Regions from separate parts of the Homo sapiens genome. Here region 1 is linked to region 2. The links come from fine-mapping of genetic effects on gene expression. Tissue or cell type: whole blood. Region 2 holds a variant in brackets; the other region holds the start of a gene. All regions are shown on one strand. Distances are between the middles of the regions.

Evidence for each region. PIP is the estimated chance that this variant, and not a neighbour inherited with it, causes the effect.
Region 1: ACTR2 starts here. The variant in region 2 is fine-mapped to the expression of ACTR2 in whole blood (INTERVAL, PIP 0.95).

Annotation. Positions count from the first base shown.
Region 1 is chr2:65,224,652-65,229,798 of GRCh38, reverse strand. It overlaps ACTR2 (actin related protein 2), which reads right to left and starts at 1,968. Exons shown (of 9, transcript NM_005722.4): 1 at 1,842-1,968. The coding sequence starts at 1,889. LOC124907779 (a long non-coding RNA gene) reads left to right here and starts at 2,200. Exons shown (of 2, transcript XR_007086461.1): 1 at 2,200-2,318. RefSeq lists enhancers at 1,037-1,126, 1,199-2,087, 2,088-2,977 and a silencer at 1,627-1,816.
Region 2 is chr2:65,292,286-65,297,432 of GRCh38, reverse strand. It overlaps LOC124907781 (a long non-coding RNA gene), which reads left to right and starts at 1,650. Exons shown (of 2, transcript XR_007086472.1): 1 at 1,650-4,478; 2 at 4,572-5,147. RefSeq lists a silencer at 1,461-1,643. The variant G/A (reference allele first, on the strand shown) is at 1,953.

The sequences.
Region 1 (5,147 bases), 68 kb after region 2:
CCGTCACATTAATATGTTTTGTTTTTCTTTTTTTTTTTTTTTTTTTTTGAGACGGAGTCTTGCTCTGTCGCCCAGGCTGGAGTGGTGCGATCTCGGCTCACTGCAACCTCCGCCTACCGGGTTCAAGCGATTCTCCTGCCTCAGCCTACCGAGTAGCTGGGATTACAGACGCCCACCACCATGCCCGGCTAATTTTTGTATTTTTAGTAGAGACGGGGTTTCACTATGTTGGCCAGCCTGGTCTCAAACTCCTGACTTCAGGTGATCCGCCCGCCTAGACCTCCCAAAGTGCTGGGATTACAGGCATGAGCCACCGCGCCTGGCCTCAATGTACGTTAACACTCTTTTTACTCTAGTCCATTTTTAACACAGTTCAGATGAAGCTACCATAATTATTGCTTGTAAAATTGTGTAACAAATCTAATCAAGGGCAGTATTATGGCAGTAAATACCAGCTCTTTTCCCCCTCAACAATTCAGATTCCAAAGTGTTTTGTTCAAGTAAAATGAACTTTAATTCATACATCATATTTATGGGAGGGAGGGGAGAAAACTCACAAAATGTTGCAACATCAAAATGGTTAGAAATCACTATAGAAGTCATCCAGAATAAATAATATTTCCATCTTCTAATTTGCTGACTTTGCTACCCAAAATACATTTTTTTTTAATCTGGCAAGAGGGAGGTCTGAATGAAACAATTTTTTTTTTTTATAATTGAGACGGAGTTTCACTCTTGTCGCCCAGGCTGGAGTGCAGTGGCGCAATCTCGGCTCACTGCAACCTCCGCTTCCTGGCTTCAAGGGATTCTCCTGCCTCAGCCTCCCAAGTAGCTGGGATTACAGGCAAGCACCACCACGGCCGGCTAATTTTTGTATTTTTAGTAGAGACCGGGGTTTCACCACGTTGGCTGGGCTGGTCTCGAACTCCTAACCTCTGGTGATCTGCCCGCCTGGGCCTCCCAAAGTGCTGGGATTACAGAAACAATTTTCAAATAGTTTCTAAATCAGTGCTTTAGTCAGATTTTACAATTTTTGAATCTTAAAGGCTAACATTACCTGTATACTGAAACGAAGGGAAAAAAGGGGGCTGGGGGTGGGATAATCAACACTAATTAACTTCCCCTAAGGCTAGTGGAATTAACACTTGAGTCTTGCGGGATCCTAGGTCACCCAAAACCACTCAATGGAACATGCTGGTCTCCGTGGGCCTACTCCTGGGCCAAATACTAGTATGTAAAACAAAAAGTGAACGATGCGCTGCCGATCTGGACCCCTTCCCTCGAAAAAACTAATAAAAAGCCCAACAAACACAGCGAAAGGGCTGAGGTCCACACTCCATGACAGCACTTCCCTTTTTTTTTTTTTTTTTTTAAGTAAACCCGCTTCCTGCTTCTCGTTTGGTGTATCTTCAACTATACAGGAAGAGGAAGGCCTCTAGGTCTTTCTCCTTTTTACAAACCGGTGGCCCTGGGGAAAAGAGCCCTTCTCGGAACACACAAACCGAGCCTTTTACGCTTCCGTCCGCTTTAGCCCAATTGCCCCCGCATTAGCGCGGAGCAGGTCCCTGCCGGGCGGTCAGTAGGCTCCATGTCCAGTGCCGGTCTCGCCCGCCGCCCCCACCCGGAAGGGTGAGGGGGTGGCAGGCTAAATGGGTGGCAGGCTCAAGGGAGACCAGGGAACGGCCGGCTCGCTCCCACGCCCGCGGAGGTGGGAGGCACCGCCCCGCGCCCCTTCGCCCCGAGGGCCCGGAGGTGCAGCCCTGGGGGCCGAGGGCCCGTGCGCCAGCTGCTCGTCCCCGCCGGCGTCTGTGGCCGCCAAGGCCTCCTCGCGCGGCCCTTACCCCGGTGCCGTTGTCGCACACCACCACCTTCCTGCCCTGGCTGTCCATCGTCCGCCCAGGGAAGAGCCGCTGCAGCCGCACAACCTACAGCCACCGCCGCCCGGCCGTTTTCTCTTCTTCCTCTTGCGTCTTCCCGGCCCCTCCTTCGGCCCAACTTTTTTCCCCCGACCGGAAGCCGCCGCCGGGCTCCGCCCGTCATTTAGCTGAATGCCTGCACGAAAAGGGTGGGACGGGCAGGCAGCGCGACTGGCAGCGGTGAGCTCCAATAAAAGATGGAGGAGCGTCGAGGCCCCTCCCGCAGCTCCGCTTCCGGCTCGGCTGTCACGGTCGCTGCCCACCCGGGTTCTTCGCTGCTTCTAGTTCCGGGCGCTTTGCCGGGCGTTAATGGCGGCCAACATCGCCGGTGCTGCGGCTTTCTCCCTAAAGTGTCACAGGAGCTAAGGGCGCTGCTTAACGAACTGCAGAAGACGCAGGCAGGTGAAGGACACCGGTTCTGCTGCGGCAGTGGAATGTGGCGGAGAAGCTGGCGGGTAGGGCGGGGAGCAAGCCTGGAGGTCCTGGCGGACCCCACCATTCGACAGGGCTTGGTGTGTTATTGCTTCTAGGCCTTTTCAGCGGACAGAACTGGGATGGATACACACATGCTTATTTGAAATCATGCGTTTGTTCCATACTCCAATGTCAGCCCACCCCTTCTTTGCCCAAGTTGCTCTATGGTCAAGTGAGCGAGAGCAGGTGCCTGCATTTCCAGCCTCGTGGCTCACCGCCTCCTTCCAGTAGTCCCATGTTGCTTCACACCTCTTAAGTACATGTACTTCTGTGAACCCAGAGCCTTGGCTTTGAAATCAGACAACCCCAGTTTCAAACGTGGCGCTGCCACTCACGAGTTTTGTGATTTTGGCATACCCCTGTCTGCATGGGGATAATAACTTCTATCTCCATAGGTGTGGTGAGGATAAAAGTCTATGCATGGAGGAAATGTTCATTCAGTGGTAGCTATTTCTAATTCTGTTCTTCTGGACCTATGATTCTATCTACGATGCCTCATTTTTTTTCCTTTTTAATCAATTGGCAAACTTGTGCTCTGAGACCCAGCTTGTTACATCTCTGATGACAGCTGATATCCTCAGGATATTCCGTACTTCCTTTCTCCCTATTACTTTACTATGAATATATGAATAACATTGTGCTTATTGCATGCAACAAATATTTATTAGATGAATGACATTAAAATTCACCTTTAAAATGCCATCCTTTATGAGAGGTGAGAAATAGAACTTTTCCTTCGACATGGCTGTACATGTTCAACAACTAGAATAAAACAGTCATCATGAACCCTCAATCCAGTATTCTTTTTATAATATAGCTGCCTGTCAGTTTTCACTGTTCTTTTATTAGACCAGTGATTTTCAAACCTTTTTAAAGGCATACAGTGCTTTATTCAAATCTAATCTTATATGGAACCCTCAACACATAAATATTAAGATAAAAATAAAGCTGCCATTGTTGCAATTAGAAGTTTGAGAGGTTAGAATAGGTAGGAAGTCTCGGAGGAACATTTCTTCGTTTTACCTGCTTTAACAGTCAGAGAAGTACCTCAGCCAGCAGAAAAATTTATTTGTTCATAAATTCCTTGAGTATAGAGTCCGTATCTTATTTTTGTGGCCTCCAATGCTAGTGCTGTGCAGTTTTCTTGAAAGTGCATTTTATTGGTCTCAGCAAATTGAACTCAAGCATTTCTGTGTTCTTTTACTTTTCCTCTTTGTGGAATTAAGGGGATTGCTAATTTGTATTTTTAAAGAAAGAACATTATTCCGGGCGCGGTGGCTCACGCCTGTAATCCCAGCACTTGGGGAGGCCAAGGAGGGCAAATCACCTGAGATCAGGAGTTCAAGACAAGGCTGACCAACATGGCAAAACCCCGTCTCTACTAAAAATACAAAAATTAGCTGGGCGTGTTGGCACGCGCCTGTAATCCCAGCCACTCAGGAAGCTGAGGCAGGAGAATCGCTTGAACCCGGGAAGCAGAGGTTGCAGTGACAGAGATCGTGCCACTGCACTCCAGCCTGGTGAGAGCAAGACTCTGTCTCAAAAAAAAAAAAAAAAAATTGGCAAGTTTGGCCCTAAAATTTATATGAAATGAAAAGGAACCAGAATAAAAGGATTTCGAAACAGAAAAAGATGGAGAACTTCCACTACCTGAATTCAAAACTTATTATAAAGCTACAGTAATGAAGACTGTAATACTGGCATAGAGGCAGATATATCGATCAATGGAATCAAATAGTCCACAAATAAACCTTTACATTATGGTCAGTTGATTTTCAACAATGGTGCTAAAACAATCCATGGGGAAAGGGTAATCTTTTCAATGAATGATGTGGGAGGGAAAAAAAAGAACTTTGATTCTTACCTCACATCACACATAAAAATTGATTTAAGTGGATCATAGACCTAAATATAAAAGCTAAAACTATAAATTTCAGAAGAAAAAGAGGAAAATCTTTTGATATTAAGTTAAGCAAAGTTTGCTTAGATATGACGCTAAAATCGTGATCTATAAAAGAAAAAATTGATAGTTGACATAATAGAAATTTAAAGCTTTTAGTTCATGTATTGAAACAAAAAATCTAGACTGGGACAATGGCTCACATCTGTAATCCCAGCACTTTGGGAGACCAAGGTGGGTGGATCGCTTGAGCTCAGGAGTTCAAGACCAGCCTAGGCCAGATGGTGAAACCCCATCTCTACAAAAAATACAAAAATTAGCTGTGCATATAGTCCCAGCTACTTGGGAGGCAGAGGTGGGAAGATGGTTTGAGCCCAGGAGGCAGAATTTGCAGTGAGCTGAGATTGCGCTACTACGCTACAGCCTGGGTGACAGCCAGACCCTATCTAAAAAAAAAAAAAAAAAAAAAAGAAGAAGAAAACAAAAACAAAAAATCTTGGTCTGTCTTAGGCAACAAGCAATTAAAAAAAAAGTAGAAAATAAAGCAAAAGGGCCGGGCGCAGTGGCTCACGCCTGTAATTCCAGCACTTTGGGAGACTGAGGCGAGTGGATCACCTGAGGTCAGGAGTTTGAGACCAGCCTCGCCAACATGGTGAAACCCCATCTCTACTAAATACAAAAATTAGCTGGGCGTGGTGGCGGGCACCTGCAATCCCAGCTACTTGGGAGGCTGAGGCAGGAGAATTGCTTAAATCCAGGAGGCAAAGGTTGCAGTGAGCCAAAATCATGCCACTGCACTCCAGCCTGGGCAACAGAGCATAACTCCATCTCAAAAAAAAAAAAAAAAAAGAAAAAGA
Region 2 (5,147 bases):
CACCATGGCCAGCTAATTTTTTTGTATTTTTAGTAGAGACAGGGTTTCACCATGTTGGCCAGGCTGGTCTTGATCTCCTGACCACAGGTGATCCGCCTGCCTCCGCATCCCAAAGTGTTGGGGTTACAGGCATGAGCCACCGCGCCAGGCCACCTTTACGTTTTTTAATCAGGGAAGTAAAGAAGGAAAGCATTGGCTTTGGAATCCCAATCTTAGATTTCAAGCCAAGCTTTGCCACATCAGAACTGTGTGGTTTTGGGCAAGCCTCAGTTTTTGCATATGTGAAATGGGGATAACAATAGCTCCTCCCTCTTGGGTTGTTGTGAAGATGAAAGGAGACAACGTGTAAGCGTTTAGCACAGGACCTGGCACCCAGTAAGCTATTTTTTGATGAGGCCCAAAAAGCTCACTGTCCATTTGACCACAGGACCCAGATATCTGACAGAATCATTAAGACCATTCCTTGAAGTGGGAGTGTTGGTAATGGTTTTAATATTTTATCACCTGGCAGCGTCCTGTGGAAAACACTCATTCGTAGCCTCTTCCTGTGCTTTGCCCAGCCTGCTATTAACAGTCCCCAAAGCCTTCGTAAAAAGTATGCTTCTCCATATGATTTCCCAAAACTCGTAGTCAATAGACAGGATTGATGTATAGCTGGGTGAACATCCTTTTCTCCTTGAGCTTTTACGGAGGATGTGAGGGAAAGGGCTCTTCTTATCAAATGAGGGAGAAAAGACTCTCAAAGCCATTATGTGTCTGACACCAATTCAATTACCCCACCCATGCCCTTTTCAGCTAAGCACTTCCTAAACTTCATTAGTGCTGCAGCAATGCTGCCAGCTGACACCGTACCCTTTACTGAAAAATGTTGTACACAGAAGAGGACAAATCTCCACTGCGGCAGGTCATTGCGGCATTCCTGCTTCCTGACTAAGGTGACCTGGGTCTTCCTCCCAGGCGGAGTGGAGGGTCCAGGTGAGGTTTCAGGGCTCAGTCGGAACCTGCCCCTGCCTGATTCCCATCACCCAGAGTTTCAAGTTATCTTTCTAAAAAAATCTTAAGGCCGGGTACGGTGGCTGACACCTGTAATCCCAGCACTTTGGGAGGCTAAGGAAGGCGAATCACTTGAGGTCAGGGGTTCGAGACCAGCCTGAGCAATATGGTGAAACCCCGTGTCTACCAAAAATACAAAAAAAATTAGCCAGGCATGGTAGCACATGTCTGTAGTCCCAGCTACTTGAGAGGCTGAGGCAGGAGGACCACTTGAGCCTGGGAAATGGAGGTTGCAGTAAGCCGAGATGACAGAGTGAGATTCCATCTCAAAAAATAAAAAATAGGACCGGGCGCAGTGGCTCACGCCTGTAATCCCAGCATTTTGGGAGGCTGAGGTGGGTGGATCACAAGATCAGGAGATCAAGACCATCCTGGCTAACACGGTGAAACCCCATCAGTACTAAAAATACAAAAACAAAATTAGCTGGGCGTGGTGGCGGGCGCCTGTAGTCCCAGCTACTTGGGAGGCTGAGTCAGGAGAATGGCGTAAACCTGGGAGGCGGAGCTTGCAGTGAGCCGAGATCGCACCACTGCACTCCAGCCTGGGAACAGAGCGAGACTCTGTCTCAAAAAAAAATAAAATAAAAAAATAATAATAATAATAATAAATAAATAAATAAATAATAAAAACACTTAAGACATGGAGTTGTGTATCCTACTTTGGCTTATTTCTCATAGGGAAAACAGCACTATGTTCTATCCCACTGCCCCAGCAGAGCCCAGCCTCCCCAACCATAAACGCTGGTGTACTTGTCTGTTGGACCAAAGATTATAAGAGGCTTGAGGAAAGGTGACGGTGCCTTACTCATGCATGCAGCATCCACCAATGCCCGACTGCCAGTGGGTGGTGAGTAGATACCAGGAGACTGAGTTCTTAGAGCTATGGTCCTGGACCCAAG[G/A]GAAGGATCTTGGAAGCCCTGTTGGTTATGGAGGATAGAGCTGCTTGCCTTTGAAAAGACCAATGGACTTGGACCATGAACATAAAGTTGCATTATCCATGATGGACTGGAGACCAGAGACCCTTCCCTTCCCAGGCACCTGTAAGTTGCTGGACTCACGTGTAGCCATGGGTGAAAAGAAGACCTGCCTCTTGAAATATGACTGAGATCAAATTCCTTGCCACCATGGCAGGTGGGAGCTTGGAGTACTGAGTAAGTGTCTGTACAACGATGGATGACCAGTACCAAGGCCTTGCAAGATCTTCAACCATCAAATGAAAATTCAACTTCTTTTCATAAGTTCCAAGGCAGAGGGTAGGCTCTCCCTATTTAGAAAACTGTTTATCCCTATTAGAAAGCAGAAATTCTTCCTTGTACCTCACATTATGCCCCTCCTCAACCCCTCCACTGGCTTCTCATCTCTGAATAAATATCCGAAGTTCTTATCTTGGCCTTCCAGTCCTAGGAGATCTGGCCCCCACTCACTCTCTGACCTCATCTCCTAACACGCTCCCCCTCTTTTATTCCCTTGAGCCACAATGTTCCCCTCGTGTGCCTCCTTGTTCCTGCCTCAGAATGTTTGCCCTTGCTGTTTCTTCTGCCTGAACGCTCAGCCCTGGGATCTCCGCATGGCTTTATCCCTCACTTCCTGCTAGTCTCTGCTCACAAGTCACCTCTTTAGAAAAGCCTTCCCGGATCACTTTATCTAACAGAGTATCCCTCTCTCAGCCTTGCCACCCCACACTTTTTGTTTACCATACTTTATTTCTCTCCAAAGTCCTTAGCTGACATATACATGATATAGTTATTACATTTGTCTGTAGTCTGTTTCCCCCAGATTTTATTTTACTGACTTTGGAATCCCCAATGCCTAGAACAGTATCTGGCACATAGTAAGGATTCAAGAAATATTTGTTGAATTAAATAAGTGAATTTATCCAGCAAATACAACTGCCCCAGGCCACCACACTCCATGGATATTCCCCTGAAGTGAGATTTGATTGGGCATGAGCTGCAGAAACAGGATAGAGTGCTGGAGCTGGAAGAGACCTTGGGATCACTGACTTCTGCCCTTTCACAGGGCTGCCGGGGCACACAGGGTGTAAACCTGCCGTGAGGCCTGGGGCTTTCCTGTGATCTTAAGGAGGCTGCCTTGTTGAGGGAGATGCCCAGCCCAGTGGCTCTGCGGTGTCTTCTCCAACATCACTGGGCGGGAGCACAAGGGAAATTCCTTAGGCAGTGAGAGCTACCCGAGAAAATAAACTTGGGAAACCCAGGTTCTGCGGATCTCTTACTTCTCAGGGCTGCAGGTAAGTTTCTGTGTGTTGCGATTCTCTGAGATGAAATGACTGTACATCTCATTTCTCAAACTTTTTTTTAAGCCTTTTTTCTGGTGAATCCTTTTATGGGATTTGTCTTTCCAGGGACACATTTGGGAAAACGCTGCTTTTTTGCCTTTTTACTGGCTGAAGCACCTTCTGAACAGGCATGGGGAAGCTACAGGGGTCAGTGGCTTTTGTTAGCTAAAGAACCCAGAGATGGGACTTTTCCTTTCCTTAAGGCCAGGGCTTGCCAGCTCCTCCCATCTTTTAGAGGAACCCCAAAGCATACCCTTTTCTACATTCTGCTACCCCCTGGCCCCCCCCAGACCTGAAATGGCTCCCTTCAGTCTCTCTTTTCTTCAGCCCCCCAACACTTGTCTCACCAGGCCCAGCTTTTCCTTCTGGATGTCGCTTGCCGCCCGCCTATCCTCCCACCTGCCTCCTGAGGCCTGGTTTGGAGGTTCTCCTCCTTCCAGGAGCCCAGCGCTGCCTCTAGGAGAGAGAATTATCCTGGAAACTCCCCCTTCTCCCTGCCTGACAGCAGCCCCTGCTGAACTCCACAGCCGCAGCTGGGAGCCATTTAAATAGCTGATGCAGGGTGGGCTGGTGGCTACTGCCTGTAATCCCACACTTTGGGAGGCTGAGGTGGGAGCACTGCTTCAGCCTAGGAGTTCAAAACCAGCCTGGGCACTATAGCAAGGACCCTGTCTCTAAAAAAGAAAAAAAATAGCTGATCTGCATCTGAAAGGAGATAAGCAGTTTCCTGAGCGGTATACTGTGCAGTATCCAGCTTCGTAAACTAAGGGCATACACACTGTAGACATGTCCATGCATATCTGCACAAGGAAAGAAAACGCATGGAGGTGAGGGTGTTGGTGGCTAACTCTGGGTGGTGGGATTTGGGGTGATTTTTTTCTCCTGCGTTGCTTAGCTGTGCTTTTAAATTTTATTTTTTCACGTATGTTTGCAACAACGAAAACTCATGATAAGTGTCAATAAATCGGCAGCTCTCGTTTGGTTCCTCATTAGCTGTGTAACCTCAAACAAAGTACTTAACCTCTCAGGCTCCTCATCTCAAATACATCCCACCTCCCTCCTCCTCTGAGATGCCGCGGGATTCATCTCTCTCCCACAGCCAGATTGCAAGCAGCTAGAGAGCAGGCAGGTGAGTGTCTTCCCCCCTACAGACTCCCGTTTCCCCCGCATGCCCATGTGGTGCCTGGAGCGCTGCAGCATTGTGATTTTTTTATTATTGCAGGTGCTAAATAAATCCTCAGTGACTGAGCCCGGAGCCAAACACATTTATCCTTGTCATCCATCCAATTCTGTGCAGCTGGGATGGAGCCCAAGGCGCTGAGGACAACATAAATCTGCTCTTTGGGCCACACCCATTTCTTCTCCAAGCAGATGTGGTAGCCGGGAGCCAAGTCTTGGGGGCTCAGCGCTGGGCTGAGAAGGGGACGAGCTCCAGGCCCGGTGAGTTGGAAGTCTCGGAGAAAGGCTGACTGGCTTCACCTCGCCTCCGCCGCCCAGGGGCTGTGTGAGCAGGCTTTGGCAGCGATTTCTCCAGCAGGAAGGGATGAAGCCCTGACCAGGTTCAGAGGCAGCGGGTCAGGACCGTGCCTGGGCTCAGTCCCGCCCTGGCTCCTTCGCTTCTCGCCGCTGTGAGCCTGGGCAGTGGCTTCGCTGCTCTGGGCCCCACTTTCCTCAAGCGTTAGCAGGACAGTGGCACTCTATTTTGGAATCTCATGAGAATAAAATGAGATGATGCATGGACAACCTGCACATAGCAAGTGCTAATAATTACCATCTCTTAAGTTGGTTTGAAGGTCCA